Homo sapiens: one gene and its partners. The protein of the gene in region 1 purifies or fractionates together with the protein of each later gene. This does not show direct contact. Each region holds a gene or a part of one and is shown in the gene's direction. Other genes may lie near its edges. The genes, in order: TSHB, PRMT3, CNTNAP3, SP3, ASB1, ERC1 and EPDR1.

What was found.
Region 2: the proteins of TSHB (region 1) and PRMT3 purify together in Homo sapiens (affinity purification with mass spectrometry; 2 studies listed by BioGRID and IntAct, with this or other methods). This does not show direct contact.
Region 3: the proteins of TSHB (region 1) and CNTNAP3 purify together in Homo sapiens (affinity purification with mass spectrometry; 2 studies listed by BioGRID and IntAct, with this or other methods). This does not show direct contact.
Region 4: the proteins of TSHB (region 1) and SP3 purify together in Homo sapiens (affinity purification with mass spectrometry; 2 studies listed by BioGRID and IntAct, with this or other methods). This does not show direct contact.
Region 5: the proteins of TSHB (region 1) and ASB1 purify together in Homo sapiens (affinity purification with mass spectrometry; 2 studies listed by BioGRID and IntAct, with this or other methods). This does not show direct contact.
Region 6: the proteins of TSHB (region 1) and ERC1 purify together in Homo sapiens (affinity purification with mass spectrometry; 2 studies listed by BioGRID and IntAct, with this or other methods). This does not show direct contact.
Region 7: the proteins of TSHB (region 1) and EPDR1 purify together in Homo sapiens (affinity purification with mass spectrometry; 2 studies listed by BioGRID and IntAct, with this or other methods). This does not show direct contact.

The regions. Positions count from the first base shown.
Region 1 is NC_000001.11:115,028,633-115,032,625, forward strand, and holds the start of TSHB (thyrotropin subunit beta isoform 1 precursor), read left to right. Parts: upstream 1-1,193; 5' UTR 1,194-1,228; intron 1,229-3,993. UniProt on the Homo sapiens protein: Indispensable for the control of thyroid structure and metabolism.
Region 2 is NC_000011.10:20,386,478-20,390,515, forward strand, and holds the start of PRMT3 (protein arginine N-methyltransferase 3), read left to right. Parts: upstream 1-1,238; 5' UTR 1,239-1,269; coding exon 1,270-1,297; intron 1,298-1,541; coding exon 1,542-1,677; intron 1,678-3,266; coding exon 3,267-3,349; intron 3,350-4,038. UniProt on the Homo sapiens protein: Protein-arginine N-methyltransferase that catalyzes both the monomethylation and asymmetric dimethylation of the guanidino nitrogens of arginine residues in target proteins, and therefore falls into the group of type I methyltransferases.
Region 3 is NC_000009.12:39,096,168-39,099,667, reverse strand, and holds part of CNTNAP3 (contactin-associated protein-like 3 isoform 1 precursor), read left to right. Parts: intron 1-3,500.
Region 4 is NC_000002.12:173,909,874-173,913,373, reverse strand, and holds part of SP3 (transcription factor Sp3), read left to right. Parts: intron 1-107; coding exon 108-304; intron 305-3,116; coding exon 3,117-3,433; 3' UTR 3,434-3,500. UniProt on the Homo sapiens protein: Transcriptional factor that can act as an activator or repressor depending on isoform and/or post-translational modifications. Binds to GT and GC boxes promoter elements. Competes with SP1 for the GC-box promoters.
Region 5 is NC_000002.12:238,425,686-238,429,726, forward strand, and holds the start of ASB1 (ankyrin repeat and SOCS box protein 1), read left to right. Parts: upstream 1-1,241; 5' UTR 1,242-1,385; coding exon 1,386-1,434; intron 1,435-4,041. UniProt on the Homo sapiens protein: Probable substrate-recognition component of a SCF-like ECS (Elongin-Cullin-SOCS-box protein) E3 ligase complex which mediates the ubiquitination and subsequent proteasomal degradation of target proteins.
Region 6 is NC_000012.12:989,774-994,022, forward strand, and holds the start of ERC1 (ELKS/Rab6-interacting/CAST family member 1), read left to right. Parts: upstream 1-1,449; 5' UTR 1,450-1,549; exon of another isoform or gene 1,550-1,714; intron 1,715-1,776; exon of another isoform or gene 1,777-1,846; intron 1,847-4,249. UniProt on the Homo sapiens protein: Regulatory subunit of the IKK complex. Probably recruits IkappaBalpha/NFKBIA to the complex. May be involved in the organization of the cytomatrix at the nerve terminals active zone (CAZ) which regulates neurotransmitter release.
Region 7 is NC_000007.14:37,923,640-37,927,139, forward strand, and holds part of EPDR1 (mammalian ependymin-related protein 1 isoform 1 precursor), read left to right. Parts: intron 1-3,500. UniProt on the Homo sapiens protein: Binds anionic lipids and gangliosides at acidic pH.

The DNA.
Region 1 (3,993 bases):
TGGATCCCTTCCCTACACCATATAGAAAAATCAACTCAACGTGGATTAAAGACTTACATGTAAAACCTAAAACTGTAAAAACCCTCGAGGATAACCTAGGAAATATCATTCCAGATGTAGGACCGGGCAGAGATTTCATGACGAAGACGACAAATGGAGTTTCAACAAGAACAAAAGTTGACAAATGGGACCTTTAACTAAAGGGCTTCTGCATTATGGCCCAGAAACTTTCTCCAGGCAGTTTCTCCCTGTTTGTTTCCCATCTCTCTAGGATCGTGTACTTTTGTTACCTGATGTAACAGGAAAAGAAACTATCAACATAATAAACACACAACCTACAGAATGGGAGAAAATATTTGCAAACTATGCATCTGACAAAGGTCTAATATCCAGAATCTATAAGGAGCTTAAACAATTTATAAGCAAAAACTGAAGAACCCCGTTAAAAAGTGGGCAAAAGACATAAACAGACACTTTTCAAAAGAAGATATATACATGGCCAATAAGCATATGAAAAAATGCTCACACCACAAATCATTAGAGAAGTGATATTACCTTTTAATAGAAACTGAAGAGGTCAAGCATGCCAATGTCATATGGCAAGTAAATGGCAGGGCCAAAATTTTATCTCAGGTCAGCTTGACATCCTGTCAGATGTGGCCATGTTCCTCAGAGTCATTCTTTCACATGTGTAAATTTTACTTAATATCTTAAAATCCCCCAAAAATATTTTGAACTACACATTTTGTTCTAAACAAAATTTTTAGATGAGGAATAATTTTATATATCTTTACATGAACATTTAGGTAAAACTTGAAGCCCTCAAGCCCCAAATAAATTTTTATTCCCAAGACTTATTTAGATGATGTTAGAGTGTTTTTTGAATTTGGTTTTTCCCATTCTGTATCTATCTTTTATTAATATTAATAAATAAATATTAATAAAGAATATATTTAAAAGGTAATTTTATTTTGAAACAGAAGAGAGGAAAATGCATGCTTTAATAATGTCAGTTTCCAGGTAAAGATATTGTGAGCTTGTTTGTCTAAATACATTTTATTTGGAATTCAGTATGAATTTTCAATAGATGCTTTTCAGATAAGAAAGCAGTAAATCAAATGCAATTGTATAAACAAGAAGATCAGAGGGATTATCCTGAAGGGTATAAAATGAACCAAGAGCTTTTAGTTTGGGTCACCACAGCATCTGCTCACCAATGCAAAGTAAGGTAGGTGTCTATAGTGAGAAGGCTCTGTGAAATGATATGTTCTTAAGCTATTTTTTTTCACTTTCACCATTTTATCATTTTTTAGAAAGTGGCAAATGCTGAAAGATAATTTGCTTCAACAGGCTGTAATATCTTAAATTACTGCTCCAAATTGTTTAGTAGTAGATGGAGGTGAGAGAACTACCTACATAAGGATAAGGAAAAAATTCATTGACTTAAAGAAAGAGAAACAACTGATTAGTTCCCTAATGAAGGATATTTGATATTCATGGCTTTCTTCTGTTTTCATTTTGATTTAAATATTGTTGTCCATTTAATGATGTGTGTATTAAATCCTCTCAATTACTGTACTAATGGCCATCTTTTATGAAAATGTACTTCCGGGAATGTTAGAGCAAATTCATTTTTGAGTACCTGCTGGGGTAATGTACTCTGTATTATAAGTTCTTTTTAGTTATTTAATAGCTAAACCTCCTTTGATAGTGTTCAACACACACACAGCTGCTGTATAGTACATTTTGCTTTCTAGAAAAATATACTGCTTTAGTGAAGTTCCAGGATTATTCATAGGATGGGCAATTAGTTCTTTTCATAGTAAGGGATTTGGAGAGTAAAAATTAATGAAGGAAATTAGCAGAGCAGAGAGGAAAGTGTTTATTAAGAATGAAGCATTGGGAGCAAAAATAAGAGAAAAAAAGAGAGGAAAGAGGCAAAGGAAAGAACATATCTTGGAATAAGAAAATACGTTCAAAGTAGGGACATATATGTCCATGCATCTGAAGAAGGCATCTCATTATTTAGGCCCTGCCTGAAACCATGCCTTCTATGTTTAGGTACCCAACAAATTATTCATGGTGATTTCAGAATAAGCAATTAAGTGGCAAAGATGAGAACCCAGATGACAATGAGGAAGAAATTGTGGCATATCACAGAGGAAGGGATTAACTAACGCGGATTTGTACAGTGTTATACAGCTATGTGATCTTTCTTATATAGAGAGCCAAGTGTTTCACATGTATTGTTTTATTCTTTTTATGATTTTAGGAAGGGACATATGGAAAAATGAAGGCACAAAGATATTAAATTGCTCAGTTGCACACAATTACAATTAAATCCTTAAGTAGAATTTAGATCACTAACTCTTAATCAATCAATCAGATCTGACACTAATTTATCATATAGAATTACAGACTATTTGTGCTGCGAAGATTTTCATGATCATCTTCTGGCTCTAAGCCCTGCTTTTATAGGTGAGAAAGTTGAGGCCCAGAAAGATTCTGTGGGTGAAGTTTTACTATTCGCAATAAAGAAGTAAAGGAAAAGAAAAGTTCTTGCTTTCTTTATGCCCACAAAGTTGTACAGATACTGTGGCTGGTAATTCAGCACTTCCATTTTCTACTTTTGTTAGTTTAGAGTTCTACATTTATAGGAGAAACTTCAAAAAAATATAGAGTATCCATAGTTAGTATGACAATAGGAAAACCAAAACAAATTTTCATCCTACATTTTAAAAAGGGTCAGGTGTACTTGTCACTTTCTATTTTGCAGATGGGGAAATAACACTCAAACAGATTATATATTTTAGTCAAGTTCTCATAGATTTATGGAAGAATTCTGTTTCTTAATTTTTAGACCAATATTTTCATCACCAGGTCACCACATTGATTTTATACAGAATTATAGAGCTAAAAGTTAAAATATGTGAAGTTAGTTGTTTCCTATAGAAAAAACTCAGTAGCTGGCTGTCTAAACAAGCAAGAACTATAATGGCCATGATGGGTAAGCATTTTACATAATTTACCAGTTAGTAATTTTAAGATCCTACAGAGGATCATCAAGTTCTGTATCTCTAAAATACTGGAAGCAACTCTGTACCATAGAGGGAGCTCACATTTGAGAAGCGCTTGAGAAAGCCAGATTCCATGAGTAAGGAATTTGTATGTTTTTGCTCCTTAACTCAAATACCAAACAAACCTTCCGTGGAATGTTTGAATATGCAACATTTCATTTAAAAGAATTTGTGAGAAAAACCCCTGTTATTTTAACCTTTAAAAGTTAAGTCTTCCTAAAATGGGTTAGTTTACTTTCTTGTGTAATAAGAAGTATAGTAAACATAAATCTTTGATAATTGTAGGTCTTAAAGTCTTAATTTGGACTCTTTCAGAGCACTAGAACAATCTGCGTTTTTATTATTTGTGTTCATATTAGCTCCTCCACTGGACAGTCAGCCCTTTAGGTAAAGGACCGTAGCTTTTCCGTTTGTGTTTGTCAGTGCCTGGTTCAGATGCTCAATATATGTTTATCTAATTTATCTACAATTCTCATTCTAGGAATAGAAGGTTGATTGAAATGACCACTGATCTCTGGAATTTGACATTTAAAATAAATCCCTGGTAACCTGTGTAATGTGGTTTTCATGGTTTCTTATAAGTTGATTGAAAAAAAAATCCTGGTTAACCAAGGCCGAACCTATGAGGTTTCAGTTTACAGAGGTTTTAGTGTATATAGCTTAAAGATGCTGTTGGGATATAACTGACAGATTTGGGGAAATCTTGGTACTTCTGATTATTGAACAAAATATTTAGTAAATTATATTTTATTTAATAGAACAAGCAAACAAGTTTATGTTCATAGACCACAATACTACTCCATTAAGGTATATATTTTCTTTACTGACAATGATACTTGAGAAGGAAAAAAATCCAAACACATCTAGCTAGCTGTACAATATTTGTAAGATTAAAAAAATTCTTCTTAATCTTCAA
Region 2 (4,038 bases), on another chromosome or scaffold:
ACATTTGTGTTCTTCCCCACACAGCAGCCAGATTGTTACTTTCTCAACACATCTGAGAGCATCACTCCCTGGCTTAAATAGTTATGTCTGAGCACTTTACATGTATTAACTCGTTTTATCCTTACTGTAGTTCTGAAGTTAGTCCAGGTTTTTTGTTTTTTGTTTTTTTTTTTTTAAGATGGAGTCTTGCTCTGTTGCCCAGGCTGGAGTACGGTGGCACAATCTCGGCTCACCACAAGCTCCGCCTCCCGGGCTCAAGCAATTCTCCTGCCTCAGCCTCCCAAGTAGCTGGGATTGCAGGCGCGTGCCACCACACCTGGTTAATTTTTGTATTTTTAGTAGGGACAGGGTTTCACCATGTTGGCCAGGCTGGTCTCCAACTCCTGACCTCAGGTGATCCGCCCGCCTCAGCCTCCCAAAGTGCTGGTACTATAGACGTGAGCCACCGTGCCCTGCCCAAGTGCAGTTATTATCCTTGTTTTGTATTTGATGAAACTGAGGCAGAGAGAGGTCGAGTAACTTGCCCAAGATCACAGTTACAAAGTGACGTGGGTAGGATTCAAACCCAGCAGGCTGCCTCTAGAGTTCACGTTCTCACTTAACCAAAGATTAAAATCCGTCTTGGGGGGTTTGACACCTATCTGTCCCTGCAGTAGACCCACCCTGGCCCATGCAGTTCGTTCCCTCTCGCCAGCTGCACCCCCTCCAGGACCTGGGAGCCCAGAAACCAGCCGAGCCTCCAGCGTTTGGCCTCCTCCGCCACCAGAGGGCGTCATGGGCCGATCGCCCCTCCGCTAACCGCTCATCCCAGGAAAAAGGGGCGCACAGAGGACAGGATGCCAACCCCAAAACCGCAGCGACGTCTCTCTGCCTTGGGGCTCACAGCAGCGGGCCGCGACCTCCCACTAACGCCTGCCGCAACCCAAGGAGGAGACAAAAGTCATCTTCCGGGCTGCAACATTAACCGTCATCAGCGCGCCTCTTCAGCGCGCACTGCGCCAACCCTGCGGCAGGAGGAGGCGGAGCCCCCGCTCTCGCCCCGCCCCCACCTCACGTGACCCGCACGGCGCCTCGAGGCCGGAAGCGATTGCGAGCCAGCGCGCGCGCTTCGGCGTTCCCGGCGGTCTGCGAAGTTTCCGGAGCCCGGGTCCCGCCGCGGGTTCGCGCTTGTGCTCGCGCTCGTTCCTGGAGTCGGCGGCCGCTGCGCGCGCTCGTTGCCCAACCCGGTCCCCGCCCCCAGACACGCCGGGCTCTCGGGGCACCACAGCCATGTGCTCGTTAGCGTCAGGCGCTACCGGTGGGTACCCTGGCCCCTCAGCACCCGGCTCGTCCAGCCCCAGGCCGCGCCGCTGTGGGGCCGGTGGAAGACCCTCCGGGACACGGGCCCGGGCAGGGTGGGGGGCTCGCAGGGATCATGAAGGAGGTGCTGAGTGAGGGCCGCGGGCGAACGGGGCGGAGGAGAGCCCATCGTCACCTGCTCCTCGAGCCCCCGGGCCGCACCGGTGTCCGAGGCCGATCTGATTGTTGTGTGTGTGTGTTAGGCGGCCGGGGCGCTGTGGAGAATGAGGAGGACCTGCCAGAACTGTCGGACAGCGGGGACGAGGCCGCCTGGGAGGATGAGGACGATGCAGATCTCCCCCACGGCAAGCAGCAGACCCCCTGCCTGTTCTGTAACAGGTTCGTCCGCCTCAGCGCCTGGCCTCTGCCCTAGGGTGCCCGGGCGCGTGGGGTCTGTGTGCCCAGGAACGCCTTCGGGCGGGAGGCAAGCCAGAGTGGCCTGTCTTTGAATTCTGGAACCACTGGTCTGGGGTGAGGGCTTGTGGAGAAGGAGGACCCTCGGTAGTAGAGAGGGGGAACCGTGAACTGGAAGGCCGGTTGTACTGCAAGCTTTTGACTGGTAGTGCATTGAATCTGTGGTTCCCAAATCTTGTCACTTGAGACGCTGAAAACAAAATGATACTGAACTCTGCACCTGAATCCTTCCAAGTCAGGGATGGGGTCTAAGAATATTCTGTTTTTATGAGGACAAGATCGGAAGTAACAGTGAAGTTACTAACGAGTTACTACTAACGAGTAACATATTTGGCAGCCACCCTGAACTAGATAATCCCTACGGAGCCTTCCGGCTTTACCATGCTAATTCTTTGACCAGTACAGAGCTTCTCAGGTGAAACATTTCTTTTTTATTTGAGCGGTTTCCATAGTCTAAGAAGGAAGTTCACCTTACTTAAGTAGGACTTTTCACTTAAGGAAAAAGACTGTAGTATCAATAATTTGCTCAAGGTCACAAAGCTGTGGTGTGCTTATTTCCAAACTCACATTCTTGCCACTTAAAATTCTGCCTGTTAGTCTTGGGAAGCTTTGGCTCCTGTCCTAGGCAAGTAGGCATGAAAGAGGCCCGGTTGGCATTGGCCGGTGTTACTTTAATACATTTTCCAGTGTTCCCTGTATCTGGGCATGGTGCTGAGTGGTGGTGCGTTAGTGTTCTCATCTGTAGCCCCATTGGGTAGATAGAATGCCTGTATATATTCTAGTTGTCATAAAATATTTATTGAGCACCAGTGGTACCGTGGCTGTGATAGCCTCCATAAATAGTCGACATAACCTATCTCGGTAAACATTTGTGGAAAACTAATGCTCCACATGTGTTAGGAATATAGATAAGGTATACAGCTTCTCTGCTGTGTATTCCTGTCTTTAAGTAGCCTTCAGATTTGCATGTCACATAATAAAGAGGATTGATCCTCACAGTGTCTGTGATGCAAGTACGTTGGGAATACTACAAGATCACTTTTGAAATAAGGCACTTGGGGAGTATGCCAGCTGTAAAATTACATTTTATGCTTTATTTCTAAAAGCAGTTTGAGCTGTGCCAGTTCAAAGCCTCTGAAAGCAGAGTTGACACTTAGAGGAGAAAAGAATCTCAAGTAGAGAAATTGTATGACTTGAGAGAAACAGACTCTATCAAAGGGAACTCTCTTAAAAGCCTTTTGATAAAATCAGTGATATTATTTGACAAATAAATTCACTTTGACATTTAAAGGATAATTGGTTTTAGGTATAAAATGGGACTCAGAAGTACTAATTCCCTTTAAAAGTGCTGGATTCCCTTCCTTTCAGATACAAGTGTGTTTGTTTTTTCTTAATTGGAAGTAAAACTAGAAACCAGCAGAGTTAAAAAAAAAAAAAAAGTGTATATGTAACATGAAATCAGTATTTAGACTTCTTAGGGGACTATTCCATGAAGCTATTGCTTGATTTTTCAGGTTATTCACATCTGCTGAAGAAACATTTTCACACTGTAAGTCTGAGCATCAGTTTAATATTGACAGCATGGTTCATAAACATGGTGAGTAGTTTTTAGAATAAAGGCAATTTAATTTGTGAAATTTGGGCAGGCATGGCAGCTCACACCTGTAATCCCAGCACTTTGGGAGGCTGAGGTGGGTGGATCACTTTAGGTCGGGAGTTCAAGACCAGCCTGGCCAACATGCTGAAACCCCACCTGTACTAAAATACAAAAGTTATCTGGGTGTGGTGACGCACACCTGTAATAGCAGCTGCTCAGAAGACTGAGGCAGGTGAATTGCTTAAACCTGGGAGGCAGAGGTGGCAGTGAGCTGAGATGGTATCACTGCACTCCAGCCTGGGCAACAGAGTGAGACTCTTCTCAAAAAAAAAAAAAATCTGTGAAATATAAGTTCAGATTTTATAGTTTTTCAGACCCTTTTCTGTACGAGTTTAATATGGCGAATCACACAGCAACATCTTGTGGAAATGGAGTTTTTTTGACAAGCGGTCCTTGAGAAAAGATGAATAAGTCACTCTTCTAGACAAGATTCACTGTATTTAAGCTTATATTAGCTTTTCAACTAAAAACAAAAACAGACTTGGCATGTGATTACATTTTTACATTTTATGTGATTACATATTAGATTTAGGGAGAGCAAGTGTAGATGTAGGACTTGAAAAAGGACGCAGGTCATTTGAAAAAAGACAATCAGCTCAAAGCATGACATGAACTTCACAGCCTACGAG
Region 3 (3,500 bases), on another chromosome or scaffold:
CAATGCTAATCCTCTTGAAATAATTTGGTTTTCAAAACTCTGTCCTTGTACTGTTCTAATTTTAACATCAGTAAACCATCATTGTTATTTTTGTTTTTAATTTTTAGAGACAACGTATTGCTATTCAAGCCTCTCTGTTGCCCAGGCTGGACTTGAACTCCTAGGCTTGAGCAATCGTCTTACCCATTGTCCCTTGTGACAATGACTTGAAGTGATTCAAAAGGCCTTTATAGAAATGTCTTTTCTTATAAAACAAGCATACTAACTAGAAGGGGAAAATAATATTTAAATATTGACAGTCATTAACAGGATCACTCAAACACTGTGCTCTATGATGTTTGACTCTTCTTAGAGGAGTGCAGTGGGGTATCACACAGCTTCTGCTCAGGTACAATCATGTTTTCAAAAGAAAAGGGCTGGGCGTGGTGGCTCATGCCTGTAATCCCAGCACTTTGGGAGGCCAAGGCAGGCGGATCACGAGGTCAGGAATTCAAGACCAGCCTGGCCAACATGGTGAAACCTCATCTTTACTAAAAATACAAAAATTAGCCGGGCATCCCAGCTACTCGGGAGGCTGAGGCAGGAGAATTGCTTGAACCCGGGAGGCAGAGGTTGCAGTGAGTAGAGATCGCACCACTGCACTCACTCCTGGGCGGCAGAGTGAGACTCCGTCTTGGGGAAAAAAAAAAAAAAGAAAAGGAAAAAGGGACTGATTTTAGTATTAAGTACTCTGTACTGACTTATTTAATATATTTATAATACTTTTATGAAACCTCTTACAATATTGAATCATCAGAGCTAAAATGTAGTTGTGTTTTTAAGTGTCTCTGGGCTGTTACACTTACTATTTTTAGCAGCAAAACAGGCTTTAATCACTATAAAATTGTGTGACTTTCAAAAAAATTTTGAGGATTCATTATCTAGAAGTCATTTAAATTTTCAAAAGGTCTTGCATGTGTCTTTTATCATTCCTGAAGATCTCTGTGCTAACAAATCTCATAGCTCTGGTGCAAATACAGAGCCCTTTTTATATCTCAAGCCAACATCAGGAGTAACCACTCCTTCATGAGCACAAGTGCTGATTTCTAAATCATTCCCAATCCACATTTGCTAAGTGCAATTTGAATGTTATTTTATAACCCAAAATTTTCTTAAGGATAGACATTATATAGTAAGTAAATGGAAAATGGTCCTCCAGTGGCTGGGGCATATGTTATAGTTAGATTACCTAATCTAATAAGAATGATCTGGATTTTCAGTAAATTCTTTATATTTTATGGAAATGGAAAGAGTGGAGTAGTATTCCAAGACAATGATCATCACCCAACATTGTCTTTTTATTTACAGATATATTTGGGGGGTGTGTGTATGTGTATGTGTGTACTAAACACATTTTTGGAATTAACTTGATATAAAATTAAAATATCAACCTTTCATAAAGTGTTTTAAGAGAATCTGAAAGCCCTTCAACTTTTCTCTCTCAGAATACTGTAGATACCACTTTGGATTAGCCTTTCTATCCAGACAGTAAATTTGAGAAACATCTTTGGCATAAAAGAACATTTCTAAATTCTGACCTTGAAGGAGGGTTGGTCTTCAAATCACCTTTTCTCTAGTTACTTCAGGAGCTCTGTTTCATGCTTCCTACAAAGCAAATCGATTTTTAAAGAGGAGGTAACATTCAAATAAAAAACCTGGTACTCTGGCATTTCCAGGCTGGCCACATAAGGAGCTCTGTAAACCCTCTCTCATACGAAACAAGCATAACTAGTAAAAATTATTATTTTAAAAAACAACTATTGAAAGTCTTTAGAAGATGTCCTAAGGAAATACATCAAATGAAGAAACATTTATTAATCAGTAATAATAGTGAGAGTTTGAGGCATTTAAGCCAAGACCCTCTCCCAGCACCTCCCCATCCCTAGCTCAGTATGACGGAAGCTCCACTCTATATGGATATAGCCAAGAAGCCAGAGGTTTCCTCTCTACCCAGGTCCTACTCCAGAGATACTGCATTACCCCAAGATTGGGTGCCAGCATTTCTTGTCATCCCCAGTTTTGTAGGACAGAAGCTCTGTCCACGCAGAAACAGCTGAGAAGTCTGGGGTTTCCTTCCTACACCAACTCCTCATTCCAGGACATAAGGTCTTCAGGTGTGGCAGCTGGAAAATCCTGTGTCCCAATTGCCCTCACTCCAGCTTACTTGTAAGGAACAGTTTCTCCACCAGGAGAGGCAAGGCAAGAAGTTACCTTTCCCACCCTGTGCCCTACTTGTAAGCAGAGGTTTTACTACAAAGGAGCAGGCCACTCTCACTCCCCACAGCTTCAGAGCAGTGAGGCACATTCAACCAAGAGGTAGAGGGAGGCCATGAAAATACACAGCTTGGTAGCCCTCCCCAAGTGAACTGATTTCTATTTGGAACAGAGGATGGATAAGTTTAAGCATAGTGGTATGAAGATATTGGCAGTAAGCAATTAAGAGAATTTTGATAACTCCAAGAGAGTAATGAGTTAAGCCAGGGAAGTTTAACAGAGAAAAGAAAAAAGAGTCAGCAAACTTGAAGCAAGATCAATAGAGATTATGTATCCTGAAGAATACAGAGAAATAATAATGAAAAAAATAGATCATCAGAGAAATATCAGACATAACTAAGCACACCAATATATACGTAATTGAAAATACCAGGAGAGAGAGAAAGGATCAGAAAAAAATATTTGAAAAATAATGGTTGAAAACACCCCCAAATTAATAAAAATCATTAATCTAAGATACAGAAACTCAGTGAAATACAGATGACACAAAGAAGTTTATATCCAGACACATCTTATTAAAAACTTTGAAAGCCAAAGTCAAGAAGGAAATTTTAAAAGCAGTAAGAGAAAAATCATATATACAAGGAAACGCCAGGATCAACAGCTACCTTCTAATCTGAAAGAATGGAGGCCACAGGACAGTGAGATAACATATTCAAAGAGATGAAAGAAAACTATTGTCATGAAGAAACTTACACCCAGCAAAACCGTCTTTCATGTTCAGTAGCACAGGATGACTATAGTTAACAATAATTTATTGTATATTTCAAAATAACTAGAAGAGTGGAACTGGAATGTTCCTAACAAAAAGAAATGATAAATGTTTAAGGTGATGGATATCTCAGTTACCCTGATTTGATCATTACACATTGTTTGGTTGTATCAAAATATTACCTCTACCCCATAAATAACGTACAACTATTAGGTATTCATAAAAACTAAAAATTAAAAAAGATAGTAAATATATCCCTACTTACAAAAAACAGAGAATTCACTGCTATTAGCCTGCATTAGAGGAAATAACAAAGAACGTTCCTTCAGGTTGAAGGGATATAACCCAGACAATAATCTGAATCTACACACAAAAAACAAATAGCACTAATAAAGGTAAGTGTGCAGGTAATTATAAAAGAAAGTATAATGTCATATTTCTTACCCTTTTCAGTGCTTAACTATTTTAAAAAGCA
Region 4 (3,500 bases), on another chromosome or scaffold:
GATAATGTCTTCTATTTAAAATTCAACATGGGGATATATGATGTAAATGGTAATGTCCATTTGAATATTTTCATATAAGTATATATTATTCTATGTGTGTTTTTTAGAGGTACCAATCTTGGGAAAAAGAAGCAACACATTTGTCATATACCAGGATGTGGTAAAGTCTATGGGAAGACCTCACATCTGAGAGCTCATCTGCGTTGGCATTCTGGAGAACGCCCTTTTGTTTGTAACTGGATGTACTGTGGTAAAAGATTTACTCGAAGTGATGAATTACAGAGGCACAGAAGAACACATACAGGTTACTAATACTTACTTTTAACAGACAAAAATGAATTATAGGGCTACATAACTGCCTTGACTTCTTTTTTATTAGCATTCCTTACTGAACTGAATCGATTTAAAATACAATGAATTACATCCAATTTTTACCTTTAGTAACACCATCTTAATAACACAAATTCCAAAGAACAAGTCAGTCTGGCTTATCTTCTAAAATAAAGTTATATTTAAGTAGACTTTGGGTGGCTTTTGTTGACATTATTGAATGCTTTAAACCACATTTATACTATTTTTATTCTGTTAACATTTTTAATTAGTTGTCAGCTTTTACTCTTGATCTATCCTATTTTTTTTCTTTCCTCTTAACACTGTAACAAAAAATACTCCTGTTTCTTCTGACATATTTGGGCATTTCACCTTTTCTTTTGTTTTTAGTATCTCTGAGGTAAGGGAAAGGTATTTCACTGAGGAATAACCAAGGCAATGTTGATGTGAAGACTTTCTCTGATTATATTATTTTTACATAGTGTTGTGTGGTTGTTAAATGAAATGGACCTGTGACTGATCTACACTGAAACCTAACAGTGTTAACTTAGAGATAGTTTTTTCCTACTACCATGTAAATGATTAAAGTGTTCATCAGTCTATGCTCAACACTGGAGAATTGAAAACTATGTATTTACAATCCCTAGAGAGCTTGGAAGAAGCATGGTAAAATGGAGAACAACATGGATTTTGAAGTCATCTGGATTCCAATCCAAGTTCCCTATTAGGTTAAGCGAATAAACTATCTCTGACGTTGCTTCACATATCCTACTTTGGCCTTCAGTATTGTATAAAATTACCTATGAAGTCTGTAGTAGTATACAGATGCTCTAATAGTTTTAGTTCCTGTCTCTCATTGGGTAGGTAGACAGATGAGATTAACCTACATGAAACTGCAACAGACAATTAAGAAAGTAGATAAGGCTGCAGGGCGTGCTGGCCCATGCCTGTAATCCCGGCACTTTGGGAGGCCAAGGAAGGCAGATTGCTTGAGCCTCAGGAGTTTGAGACCAGCCTGGGCAACATGGTGAAACCGTGTCTCTCCTAGAAAGACAAAGAATAGCCGGGCGGATGGTGTGTACCTGTAGTCCCAGCTGCTCAGGAGGCTGAGGTGGGAGGATTGCTTGAGCCCATGGGGCGGCGGTTGCAGTGAGCCAAGGTCATGCCACTGTACTGCAGCCTGGGTGACAAAGTGAGATCCTGTCTCAAAAAAAAAAAAAAAAAAAAAAAGGTAGATAAAAGATTTTGCGTTGCAGTCTGCTGTTGAAAAGGCTCAGAAACAGAGATAATTACTGCTTGGGATAGTAAAGTATGGGATAATAGATCTTATGATGGCCCTGTTAACAGAATTTTCCTCAGTAGGATTTTATCAGCAGGTTGTAAAAAGGAATAATGTAAAAGGGAGAAAAAGGTCAATGATCAAATAAGTGTAGGAAATAGTGGGCCAAAGAGGGTATAAGTACCTTCAAGGCAGTACCTCTTAGGACCTTTAAATTAAATGCTAGATTGACAGCTTGCATCTATAAGTTAGTGATGTAATGTGTGTGTAGCATTTCCTAACCTTGTGCCGTTTGCCATGGAGTACCTCTCAGGACTAATGTTACAAGAGAAACTGGGAAATACTTTAGTAGAAAAATGGTGGTATGTTAATAGAAGAAGTGAGAGACCTTTTTTTGTAGCGGTGAATGAGGATGAGATTTTACATAACATTTCTGTTAAGTAGGATTGAGGCACACTTTAAAGGTCCTTGTAAATTAGGCAGTGGAGCATCTAAACTGTTACGTCATCTGCAAGTTACCCTTGCATTTCCATATCACTTAATATAATCTTGAAGTTTTCTGATGTAATAAAATTTGGTCTTTAAGGAAGATAGTCTGGAGAGAGAGAGAGACTAGGATGTGACTGCAGTATAGTTCAAGCATGAGGTCTGATAAAGACCTATGTAGAGTAGAGGTGCTAGAACAAAGGATACAAGCTAAGACATTTTTGAAGAAAGGAATTAAGAAAATATTTACTAGATTTATTGATTGATTTTTATTGATTTCTCTCTGAATTCCTTTTAGGTTGGCCTTTTGTCTTCTCTTTTGGTAATCTTGCAGAGTCGGTCTTCAACATAATAGAAGTTCAGTCTGTCTTTTGTATTTAAACTTACTTTATTCATGCTGGGAAATAAATTTAGGCATCAGGATTTTAACAGCTTTAACATCTTAACATATTAGGCTTGTTCTTGATTGTTGTAGCTGAAGTCAAGTCAGCTAGCCAGATTCATTTTTCTAAGGATTACTCATTCTTTTTGGATCTCAAGCTTGTGGTGTCATTTCTTTAATCTAGAAGTACCCTGTTGCTTTAATTCATATTTAAGAGTTGAAGGTTTAGTATCATGAACATGGCATGTTAGTATTTTAATTATAGCGTGAAAGAATATACTTTTATTTAGACTTTAAAGTGTGTTATAGATGCTTATTTTTTAGCTGGCATCTTAACACAGGTATTTCAAACAAACTCTTAGCGTAGTTGAGATATTAAAGTCTTATTTGAATATCCATCTATTATATAATACATGTTTGAAGACTGCTAGTCATCAAAAAGTAAAGATGAAAGATTTAAGGAGAAATATTCTGTAAGAGAAATCTGGCAGGGGTAGCTCGTAAAATGAATACAATTTTAATAGACCCCTGCTCCCATCCTCACCTGTCAGCGTTGACTTACTTTCTGTTTTGGGGGAGATGATTGAGCTATTAAAGTTGAATTTTTAAAACCAAGTAACTTAATTTTTTTCTTAACAGGTGAGAAGAAATTTGTTTGTCCAGAATGTTCAAAACGCTTTATGAGAAGTGACCACCTTGCCAAACATATTAAAACACACCAGAATAAAAAAGGTATTCACTCTAGCAGTACAGTGCTGGCATCTGTGGAAGCTGCGCGAGATGATACTTTGATTACTGCAGGAGGAACAACGCTTATCCTTGCAAATATTCAACAAGGTTCTGTTTCAGGGATAGGAACTGTTAATACTTCCGCCACCAGCAATCAAGATATCCTTACCAACACTGAAATACCTTTACAGCTTGTCACAGTTTCTGGAAATGAGACAATGGAGTAAATATTACACAAATACTTATTCATTGTGGTTATTTTTATACAGTAGTGAGAAGAATATTGTTCCTAAG
Region 5 (4,041 bases), on another chromosome or scaffold:
ACGTGTGTCAGGATTCCCTTCCTTTCTAAGGCTGAGTACGAATCCATTGTATGGACGGACAGCATTTCCTTTCTAAGGCTGAGTACGATTCCATTGTATGGATGGACGGCATTTCGTTTATCCATTCATCCATCCAACAACACGTGAGGCGGCTTCAGGCTTCGGAGTTGCTGAAGCTCCGAGTTCGGGATGTGCAGCTGTGGTGGAGCCAGGGGCTGGGCACACCCCTGGCTCCTGGCCTGGCAGCGTCATCATCGGAGTCACCTGTCCCTCATGCCAGTGGTGCTCTCTGCTGTCATCAAGACCAAACACCACTGTAGGAAGTACCCCCACTCCCGCCTCCAACCCCCACAGGGCCTGCCAGGTCTGCCCCCAGTGGGCCCCCTGGTGCATCTGGGCCACCCAGGGCCAGCCTCAGCAGGGGCACTCGCGGGGCTGCGCCTGCGGCTTCCCTTACTCCAGTCTGGAATGTTGTACACACGGATGAGCCAGCAGCTCACGCCCACGACTGCTGGGGTCTCCGGACTCCCTCATCAGCCTCCTGCTGTGCTGTGTACAAATCCTCCTCCTGCATGAGGCCCCGCTGTCTAACTCAGCAGGGGAGAATGGGAGGAGCCAAGGGAATCCGTGCTTTAGGACCAACACCAATACTCATGGTGGGACGACGCTGCGATATTTGAAGTTGGGAGTGTGCAAGAAATGTTACTCGGTTGTTCACGAATGCATTCATTTATTCAATGAACTTCGCGTCAGCCACTGGCTGTCATCAGTTACCGACCTGATTGAGGGCTTCATGGAAGGGATTTGGAGGAGCATTCATCTAAAACCACAGCACGCTGCGACGCTCAGCCCTGCAGTGGGCCCTCACCAGTCCCCGCGCCTCCGAATCCACCCTCCCGGGGCTGCTCGTGGCTAGCGGGGGGCACCTGCGGGGACCAAGCCAGCCCGGCCGAGGCCCGGGTCCCGCCCGCCACGGCCCTCGGGGCCCCGCCCACATCTGGCAGAAGCCACGCCCCGTCCGTGTGGGTGGGGACGGCCCGCCGGACCGAAATTCCCAGACTGCTGCCTCAGGCAACGGGCTTTCCGACTCCTTGGCTTCTTATGTGAGGAAACCACAGCGCGGCCGGCATCCAGAGAGTCGGTTAGCCGCGAAGTTCCCGCCGGACGAAGGGACCAGCCAGCGCCCTGCTAGACAGCGAGGCCGGAAGCGGAGGCGTGGCCCCTGCGCGGCCCCGGAAACCAGTGAGGCCGGCGCGCGCCCGCCGGAAGCCGCGACCCCGACGCGCCCCCCATTGCCCTCGGCGCCGGAAGTGGTCGCGGGTCGTTCTGCTTCCTGCCCGAGGGGCGTGCGCGGGTCAGGGGCGGCCGCGGAGGCGGAAGCATCCATGGCGGAGGGCGGCAGCCCAGACGGGCGGGCAGGGCCGGGCTCCGCAGGTAACGTGCGCGCGGCCACTGGGCCGCGGGGCGTGTGGGGATGGCGAAGGGCTGGCTCCGGCGTCCCTGCCGAGGTCCTGCGTCCTCGTCCCGGGCTGGCCGGGTCCACGGGGCAGCCAGGGAGCCGCACCCTGCAGGCCGGGGGTGGGGTTCAGCGCGGCTCGCAGTGCTGGGCGACCCCACCACGGACGCGCTGCCCTCTCCTCGGCCTCGAGTGCAGTCCCCGCGCTAGATTTTCTTTCCGGTGGAACTTGCTCGTAACTTCCTTCCCGTTAGCCGATACAGATTTGATATGACCCAACCGCAAAAGTAGGACGTGGGCCACCTTCCAGCTCTGAGCGCACGGATCAGGAAAGCCAGCCAGAGGGTAGCCCTAGGGAGGGCAGGCACTTTTTCACCATTCTGCCGCCCACGGCGTGTCCGGTGGTACAGCGGGGGGCAGCCTTCCCACCCACCACAGGCACAGACCAGGGACAACGGGGACGCCGTCTCCAGCGAGCTCGTCAGTGACACAACATGTCCAGGGGCCTTTGGCCCACCAGCAAGGGAGGCAGATAGAAAGGCTCACACCCACCTTCCAAAATAACTGTCCTACTTAGGGTCTCCACCTTGCAGTGTCCCTACCATGCAGATGTGAAGGAAGCGGTCAGGACAGGTTCCCGTTTCCCGGTGGTGTGGTGGGAGTTCCTTCTTGCTGGATTTCTGAGCTTGCCATTCGCGCCAATAGTTTCGTGTGTTCTGGGCTTTCTTTACATGCCTATATTTGTCTTTGGAGGGGTTCCTCTCCTACTTAGTAATAAACCAATACATTTCTTAAACATCTTAAAAGATTGACTTGGAGACTGGTGCAGATAGGCTTTTCCATCCATCCCTCCCTCTGCACCTCCTTCCAATCATTTAACAGACTTGTATTGAAGACCTGCTGTTGGCTAGACCCAGCAGAGGATACTGCAGTGACCAGAAAAAGCCAGACAAAGCATCTACCATCCTGGGCTTTGGTTGGCGTTGACTTTGACTTCAGAGACAGCCAGGACCTTAGGGTCTAGGATGTCATCTCATGTGAGAGTGAGAGACGGAATGATGCGTGTTCCGTGGGAAAAAGAGGACCAACAGCTACTTCCCAGTATAAAGAGAGTTCCTGGGGAATAAACACTGGCTTTGTCGGCTGCACAGGTCTCCTTTTTTTTTGAGACGGAGTTTCGCTCTTGTTGCCCAGGGTGGAGTGCAGTGGCGTGATCTCGGCCCACTGCAGCCTCCGCCTCGGGGGTTCAAGCGATGCTCTGGCCTCAGCCTCCCTAGTAGCTGGGATTACAGGTGCTGGCATCATGCCCGGCTAATTTTTGTATTTTAGTAGAGACGGGGCTTCACCATATTGGCATATTGGCCAGGCTGATAGCGAACTCTAGACCTCAGGTGATCTGCCCGCCTCTGCCTCCCAAAGTGCTGGGATTACAGGCGGCAGCCACCACACTCAGCTGAGGGCTCCTTTTTATATCCTCATGCACTGCTGTTTTGTTATTCAGTGTGTTTCGGCCTCGGGTAGAGGGGCAACAGATTTTCAGTTGAAGCTTAAGTGCTATCCTGGGGCAGTTGTGTTGTCATTGGAGTAGTTGATCAGCGAAACACAAACTTGAAGTTGCTTTTGAATCTGGAGCTGGGGAAAGATTCTGAGTCTACTTTGAGCAGGGCCAGGAATGGATAGCACAGAGGCCAGCAGAGGGGGCCCAGAAGAGGGCTCAGCAAAAGTCCTGTGGCCGCCATTTACCTGTTGGTTATTGCCCTACACCTGAATCTTTCCCACTCCGACTTTGAACTTTTTCACTCTGTAGTAACCGCAACTGTGGAGTAATTACAGGGGAGGATAGTTACTGAAGGAAGACTGGGGTGGTGGCTTAAAGAGCTGTTCATGCCGGCTTGTTGATCTGCGGCGAGTCTGGTTGTGGGATCAGCATGAGCAACTCAGTGGACTGTCAAACCCTGCAGAGCCGGGACACTTACTCATCACCCCCGTTTCACCTGTGGTTGAGTCTCATGTACAGTAGTACTGAAAAGAGATTAATTTTAATATAAAAAACAATGTCAGCATCTGGAAAGAGCCCCCTTATGGAGGGGGTGCTTTATACCTGCCTGTCTGGTCTCACACTAGGACAGCATGGCAGAGCAGGGACTTGAATCCAAGTGGTCTGAGTTTTTGCTCTTTACTTACACACGAATCTGTGTAACTATTTTTACAAAACTCTTAAATCTTCAGGAGTTTATTTTGGGTTATGATGTGAGGTGAATAACTCAATTATTTCCTAATAAGTATCTGATTGTACAAATGCTGTTTGTTGAATACTCTTTTCCATTCTCGCTGATTGTGATGCCGGTTTATCACATTCAGGCATACCTTGGGGATAGTGTGTGTTCAGTTCCAGAACACTGTAATAAAGTGAATACTGCAGTAAACCAAGTCACATGAAATTTTTGGTTTCCCAGTGCATATATAAGTTATGTTTACATGATACTATGATCTATTAAGAGTGTAATAGGCCAGGCGCCAGTGGTTCATGGCTGTAATCCCAGCACTTTGGGAGGCCGAGGCAGGCAGATCACGAGGTCAGGAGA
Region 6 (4,249 bases), on another chromosome or scaffold:
AATATCTATTGACTCCTAGTTGAATTTTCTCTTACCTTACCACACTGCTAGGGAGTAACAAGATGGGCAGATCACGAGTCAGATGAGAAAGGTCATGAAAAATAGTCAAAGGATGACTTTTCCTGGGTAAATAGCCGGATGTCCAAGAAATGAAAGGCTGGTCTGGCAGCAGCACATCGTCTAACAGTTGGTAGTCATATGTGGGAAGTACTGAAGGGGGAGATGACAGCAGGCCCAGAAACTGCAATGATCCAAGTGCATGTCGATCCTGGGAGGGAACAGTTAAGAGTCCGGGCAGGATGAAACAGTAGAAACTGGTGAGTGAATGAATGTGAAGGCTGAGGAGCGACTGCAATTTGTTAATGGGATTATGAGGCAGTATAAAGTGGTTAATTACGGTGGCGGAGGTAAGCAGGAGTAAAATGATGGCTTTTAACTCCTCTCAAGGACACCGAAAATTATTTTAATAAACACTGGAAGGCTGGGAATAAATATAATTCACACCATTCTTACTTTCTTGGTTTAGAGATAGCTTATCTACATCCTTAAATTAATGGCTGTAGCTACCCTCTGCATGGCTCCAAAAAAAAAACAAAAAACAAAAAACAAAACCAAAGCCGGCTGCGAGTCTGCACGAGAAAATCGGGTTGCACCAGGCCCCAGCCGCCCGCCGATTCGCTTAGCTGTCGGAGGCTAAATAAACAGCTCCCGAAGCAGCGTTTGGCACAGCGCAGGGTCGGAACGTGGACACTAATTTCCGCCCACGCTCCCCGCGTCCTGGCGGGATCACCACAGACACGACGTCCATTGCTGGGGTCCTCGGCGATGCCCGTGTGCGCAGCCCCGCGAGTCTCAGGTCAGAAGACCACTAATTTCGCGGCCGCGTTCCACGAAGCTAAGGGGCAAAAAACCAGCTTTCTTGGGACAAAGCGTCCCCCCAGCAGCCAGGGTCGATCCCGGCGCTGCTCCCGCGGCGCTTGGCTGCCCCGGGCGTAACGGGCCACGAGAAGTAGGGGGTGGGGCGCCGCTTAGGTTTGGGAAGACACGAAGCGGCTCCTCGGGCTTCCAGCGTCCACTTCCTACGGCAAGCAGGAGGAGACAAGCGCCACCCTGCGCTCGCGGAGCCGACCCCGGCTCTCCCCTCCCGTGGCCGCAGGGGTCGTGTGTGTGTGTGTGTGAGTGTGTGTGTGTGTGCAGGGACGCTCCGCGCCCATCACTCTGTTTCGGTGCTAATCGACCGCCGTGGCGCCGATTTCCCCCGCTTCCCAGTTCCTCACCCGCGTGCCCCGGAAGGCGCCCGGAGGCCCCCGGGCCGCCGCGTCACGCTCCCGGGAGGCTGAGGGAAAGGGAGGCAGCCGAGCCGGGAGCCCGGGGAGGCGCGCTGCGCCCCGCGGCGGGGCTGGGGGCGGGGCTAGGTGTCTCGCGCAGGGGGCGGGGCGCGGTGACGTCGCGGGCGCCTGGGCCGTGCTGTGGCGGCGGCGGCGGCGGTAGTGGCGGCGGCGGCGGTGCCTGGGCGGCAGCAGCAGCAGTAGCGGCAGCCCTGAGGACGGTGAGACGGCCGCGGCGGCGGCGACAGCGCGGAAGTCGCGCGGGACCCAGAGCTTCCCCCCTGTCGCTAGTGCTGAGGCTTTCGCCTTTCCTACCCAGCTTCTTGCTCACGGCCCGGGCTGGGCTGGGCAGGGCAACGCGCCCCCGGGGAGGGGCGGAGCTGTAGGTGAGGCTTCGCGACCCCCTCCCCCTCCTCGGCAGCCCGGGGGGTGGGGAGGGGCGGGCCCCACCCAGACCACCGGCGCCCACCCGCGGGCTCCACCCAGCCGGGCTCCGGGATCGGGCGGGAGCCGAGGCGGTAGATGTGGGGATCCTGGGGCGGGAGGTGGGGGAGTGGGGACTGGGGCTCTGGGCACTTGGGGAGCGGAGGGGGGGAGGCTTAGGACTAGTGAAGCCGCGGACGAGGTAGTGGGGAGACGGAGAAATTGGGGAGCCATGAGGTTGGGGTGCGGTCAGGGTGGATCTTTGGGTTAGGTGAGTGATGTAAAATGCTGAAGATGATTCTTTTCTTTTCGATGAAATGGTGAGATAAAAGATGAAGTGTATTTCAAAAGGACGATGAGCTGTGCATGTTGCCTTTGAGGCAGTTGCAGAACCTATTTTATTGCACTAGATCTCACGTTTCTACTTTAGGGTTCGATTCTTTTTCTTCTGGCGGGGTGGGTGGGGGGTCGGAGAGGGAAGAGAATCCCCTTACTTTGGCTCAGGTAAATTGTGAGCGTGGATGTATCTGAAAGTTTTACACCGAAGAAGAGGGAGATCTTCGGTTTAGACAACTTCGTTCCGGCAGCCACCATTTGGGTCGCATTACGCTTAGCTCCTTCAAGGTGGTGTCTTCCAGTTTTTTTTCCCCCCAATGCCTAAAAGATCTCTTTATACCACCCTTTTACAGGCTTTATCCTGGCCCCTTGAGAGAAGGCCCCAAACTCAGGTGGTTGCTTTGGAAGGCACATTGCTGAATAATAGTTGCAGGTGGTTGTGGTTGACTGCTTTGGGTGGATAAAGTGAACAATTGGAATAGTTCTGTTGGAGCTAATTATATGAAAAATGCTTAAATGTTTTAAAGTACAACCGTCTTTTATAGCGTGTTGCTTGCTCAGTACACCTTGACTTTTAGACATTTTGTGTTCAGTGCTAAATTGTTGAAATTTTATTTCTCATTTGCAGTTATGTTTCTTGCAGTCTTTATTAAAACACTTTAAAATGAAATGGAACTCTTTTTTTTTGGTAGGCTCCTCAATTTCTGAGAAATGTTCTTGGAGTCAAGTGCTTTAAAAACATTTTGGGGGCAGGTGTGTCACTTTGTATGGAAATATTAGAGTAAGCAGTGTTCAATGTTCTTCACATCACTCTTTCACAACTTAGCACTGTAAATCAGAATCTTCTTTTCTGGATTCTTGCTCCCTGTTAGATTACAGTATTCTCTGGCCCTACTTATCAGTTAGTGTCATTTAAGCTATTTCTTGTTCAGAAAACAGGTCCCATGATGGACATGTATTATGTAATGGATGGAAGTAGACATGGCTCTCAATAATTCATTTATGGAGGAAGAGAAGCTGTCAGAAAGTGGGATTTAAGCAGTGACTTTCCCAAGGCTTGCCTAGTTTATTTGGGAAAATAGCCAGAGAAGTGCTTTCTTGTAACCCAAAAGAGAAATATACAGATAAGAATTTCAGTAGTTGCAGATCGTTGCTTTTTCTAAGTGCCTACTTAATGAGCAGATTATTGTCTTCCAGCAAATACTTCTACTTTATAGAGAGGTATGGGAAACAGGACATAATAGGTATTAAGTGAGAAAGTGTGTGTTCCAATTTTTAATTATAAATAAAAGATTTAATTAACTGTATTCAGTTAATTCATTTGGTAAAGTGAACAGTTTTGACTTTGGATTAGTTAGAAGGAAAACAAAATTGACATATCTAGTTTTCGCTTTTAAATTATACATAGACTTAATTAATTGGGACAAATGTGAACTAAGATACTGGGTAAAACTTGTGTGTACTCCTAAAATGACATTTGCATGGCTGGTAGTAAGCTGTGATTCTTGTCCTTGTAGGAATGAAATCACATAATTTGGGGAAAGTCTTAAGGTAAAAGTAAGCTATTTCGTTTAGCATTTCTTGTGCCTGAAATTATGCCTACATTTTATTTTTCAAAAAATGTTGCTTGCTAGTCATTACTTGTGATATCCTTGTTGAGTCTACTGAGGTGTTTTTTTTCCTTCATTACCTGTGTCATAGATAAGTATGCCAGTCTGTTAATTCAACATTAATACTGCAAACTTAAAAGTGAAGGTTCTTGGCCGGGCGCCGTGGCTCATGCCTGTAATCCCAGCACTTTGGGAGGCCGAGGCAGGCGGATCATGAGGTCAGGAGTTCGAGACTAGCCTGGCCAACATGGTGAAACCCTGTCTCTACTAAAAATATAAGAATTAGCTGGGCGTGGTGGCACATGCCTGTAATCCCAGCTACTCAGGAGGCTGAGGCAGAAGAATTGCTTGAGCCTGGGAGGCAGAGGCTGCAGTGAGCCGAGATCATGCCACTGCACTCCAGTCTGGGCTACAGAGCGAGATTCCATCTCAAAAAATAAAAATAAAAATTGGCTGGGTGTGGTGGTGCACACCTGTAACCCCAGCTACTCAGGAAGCTGAGGCAGGAGAATTGCTTGAACCTGGGAGGTGGAGCTTGCAGTGAGCCGAGAT
Region 7 (3,500 bases), on another chromosome or scaffold:
AAGGATAAGGGTTCATCTCTCCAAAGGTAGTATTTTTTTTTTTACAATTAAAAAAATTAGACTTTAGAGTCAGACAAATCTGGATCTGAATCCAGACTCTGAATATGGGTCTTTGGGTAAGTTAATAAAGCTTTCTGAGTCTCAGTATCCTCATTTACAAAATGTGAATACTTATAATGCCTAATTTATTGGATTATTATGGGAATTAAATGAGCTCAAGTGTATAAAACATACAGTACAATGTCTGATAGTACGCACAAGATGCTCTGTTCATGGCCAAGGTTGGTCCCATCGCTACCACTATCATCATTATCCTGGTAAAGTTACCATAGCCCAGAGACTTGCTGCCAGCCCTTTGGGCTCAGAAACTTGATACAGCAGCACACACAGACCCTTCCTTTGGGAACAACCTTCGAGTAAGGAAACTCAAATGCTAAACCTGTCTACTTCAATGAGTCTTATTGCTGGCATGAGGACCAGCATTCTCAAATCCACCAGACTAGGTCATTCTCTCCCTGTAGTCAGAACTATGTGGGGAGCCAAATTATCATCAGGCAGTTGTGAGCAAAGAGTTGGAGCAAATTCATTGAGCAAACATCTAATGATTGCCTGCCCTAGGTTAGGCTGTATGCTCAATGTGGAGTTTTCCATCATGAATAAGACAGGCCAGCCTGGGGTAAGGTTTAATGGTAATCAGGCAAAGGCAAAGTGATGCATTGATTTTCACAATAGAGATGACTTGGTGGTGGTTCTGTGCTACCCCAACTGTGCTGTTCCTGACCCCTTCCACTCAGAATGGACCCTTGGTGAGTACTGCTCAAGTCTGTCTGAGCAACCCTTCTTCCATGACTCCATGACTGACTAATATAGCCTTTAGATGTGTGTTTTATACCTTTAGTGGAGTCACAGCCAACTCTTGCTGGCTTAGAAGCATTTTTGTCCCTTTGCGGTGATTTCTCATTCCTCTGCCCTAATCCAATAGGTGCTGGTTTCACAGTTAAACTTCTAAAAGACATTGTTTTCCCTTTCTTTCCGAGTTCTTGGCAAGGTTCTTTCTGACAGTCACATCGCTGGCCCTAAGTCAGATGTGGAAAAGAATGTTTAATGCATAAACACATTTTTAAGCTCTTTAAGTGTAGATTTGTTGGAACAAACTCAGAAACTTTTTCAGGTATTAACAGTCTGGCCAAGCAACCAGATGTTATTTGAAGAAAATATGGATGAGTTGTCTCTTCATATTTATGAGTAAGTTGAGAAGTAAGTTTTAGAATTGGATCAACTTCTTAAGATTTTCATTTTGCATCCAGATAGTTATGGAAAATCCCATTGATAGTTACTGTGGAATGACTAGGATTTTCCAGGCTCTGTTTTCCCTGAGATGATGGAAAAGATTAAACAACTTTACAAGCTTCAGATAAGACAAGCCTGAGCAGCAAATGGGAAATATTAGTAATTGATACCATTTTATTTTCTAATTCCAACTGTCTTTTCTGACTCCTTGATTAAATTCACAAGTATTTATTTGAAAGACTGAAGGAAATCAAGAAGATGATTTTCATATTTCAGGCAGCATGTTGAACTTTATAGGGGAAGCAGCGTTGATACACAATGAACCCTCTCAGGCCACCAGTAACTATAGGCTCCCCCTTACAAAATGGTGGCTTGGGTGTTGGAATCAATGAAGCTCTTAATGCAGAGTGAGCAGAGAGGCAGTAAAACAATATGCACAGTCTGGTATCTTGGAATATTATTTCATCACCAGTCGTACATGTTCTATTAAGGATTTGTATTTGTAAAACATGAAAAATATGTCACAAATGGGGCAGCAGGTGGATTCTTATTCAAATTCTGATTAATTCATGTCTGCTTCTCTTGATTCTCCCAGAGCATATTATTTCTTGGAGAAGAGAATAGCATTAACCTCTTTTTTAAACAGAGAATCAGCCTCCTGTAGTGGAGAGAGCAGGGGCATTCATGTTAGACCATGATGGAGTGACAACCATGGCTTCTAATCCTGCCTTCACCCCAATAAGGTCCTCAACATTGCAGAACCTCTGTGTTTTTCATCTTTTAATTTAATTTGAATGATGCCTACAATGTTGATACTAAATCACTTTTAGGCTTTCATTTGTTAAATGCTAGGTACAGATAGTATTAAATGATATCCTGAAGGCACCAATTGTACTTTTATTATATCAGGCTGATTCACTGTTTCTAATGCAATGAACTTGACACAGATTTTAAATTTTTTCTCAATCTGTCCCATTGTGTAGACAAATTAATTCAAAGTTCTTTTTCTTCCTTCTCTTTTTCATCTAAGCCTGTGCTTATGAGTAGAAAAAGAGAAGAGGCTACCTTGAAATGCCTCGGGCCCAAACTCAGAAGGCTCTGCACTCAACTGAGCCTCCCTTCCTACTAAGAATGGAATAGTGTTGCTTATAGGGGTGTTGGTCCAAGTATCAGCTGTGGATGATTAATTCCCAGGGCTGCTATCACCTAAGGTAACTTCAGTAATCTTATGTGTTTGGAAAGGAGGATGAGGATTATTTTTCAAATACATAATTTTGTTTTATTTTGAAACAATCTCACACCTACAGAAAAGTTGCAATTATAATACAAAGAGCTTCCCCCTCGCCTGAACTGTTTGATAGTAAGTTGCCAAACTGATATACCCACGATCCCCAAATGCTTCAGTGTATTTCCTCCCAGCAAGGACATTCTCCTGCATAACCACAATACAACCATAAAAGTCAGGAGATTAACACCAGTTCATTTTGACCATCTGAAATTCAGGTGTCATTCATGTTTTGCCAGTTGTTCTTTGTATGTTCTTCATAGCAAAAAAAAAAAAAAAAAAAAGATTTAAATGCAAGCATTACACTTAAGTGTGGTGTCTCTGTGGTCTCTTTCTGTCTGGAATAGTTCCTAAGTCTTCCTTGCACTTTAGTGCTTTTAAAGATTGCAGGCCAGTTATTTTGTAGAATGTTCCTTGATTTGGGTTTGTCTGATGTTTCCTCATAATTAGATTCAAGTTACTTACCTTTGGCAGGAATATCAGGGATAATACTCTGTTCCAATTGCATCCTGATGTTCACTTTGATCACCTGATTGACTGTTGTCTGCCAGCCTTCTTCACTGTGAAATGATACATTTTTTCTTTTTAATTAGTAAGATTTGGTAGGGAAATATTTTAAAACCATGTACATATCCCATTCTTCATTAATCTTCTGAATTATACTTTATTTGTATCAGTGTGGACTCAAGCCTTCTAATTTTGTTCTATTTGCTCTCGTTGTTTACTTTGCTGTTCATAATGTCCTAGATTTGGCCAGTGGAAGCCTCTTCAAATTGGTTTCTATGTTCTTTTGATGTGTTTGGGCACTTCCTTGCTTTCCGGCACAGCAAGATATTTCAAGATCATCTATACTTTTCCTGCCCCAGTCCTAGGATAAACCATTTTTCAAGAAGCCCTGGTTACTTTTCCTGGAGAATAATATGTG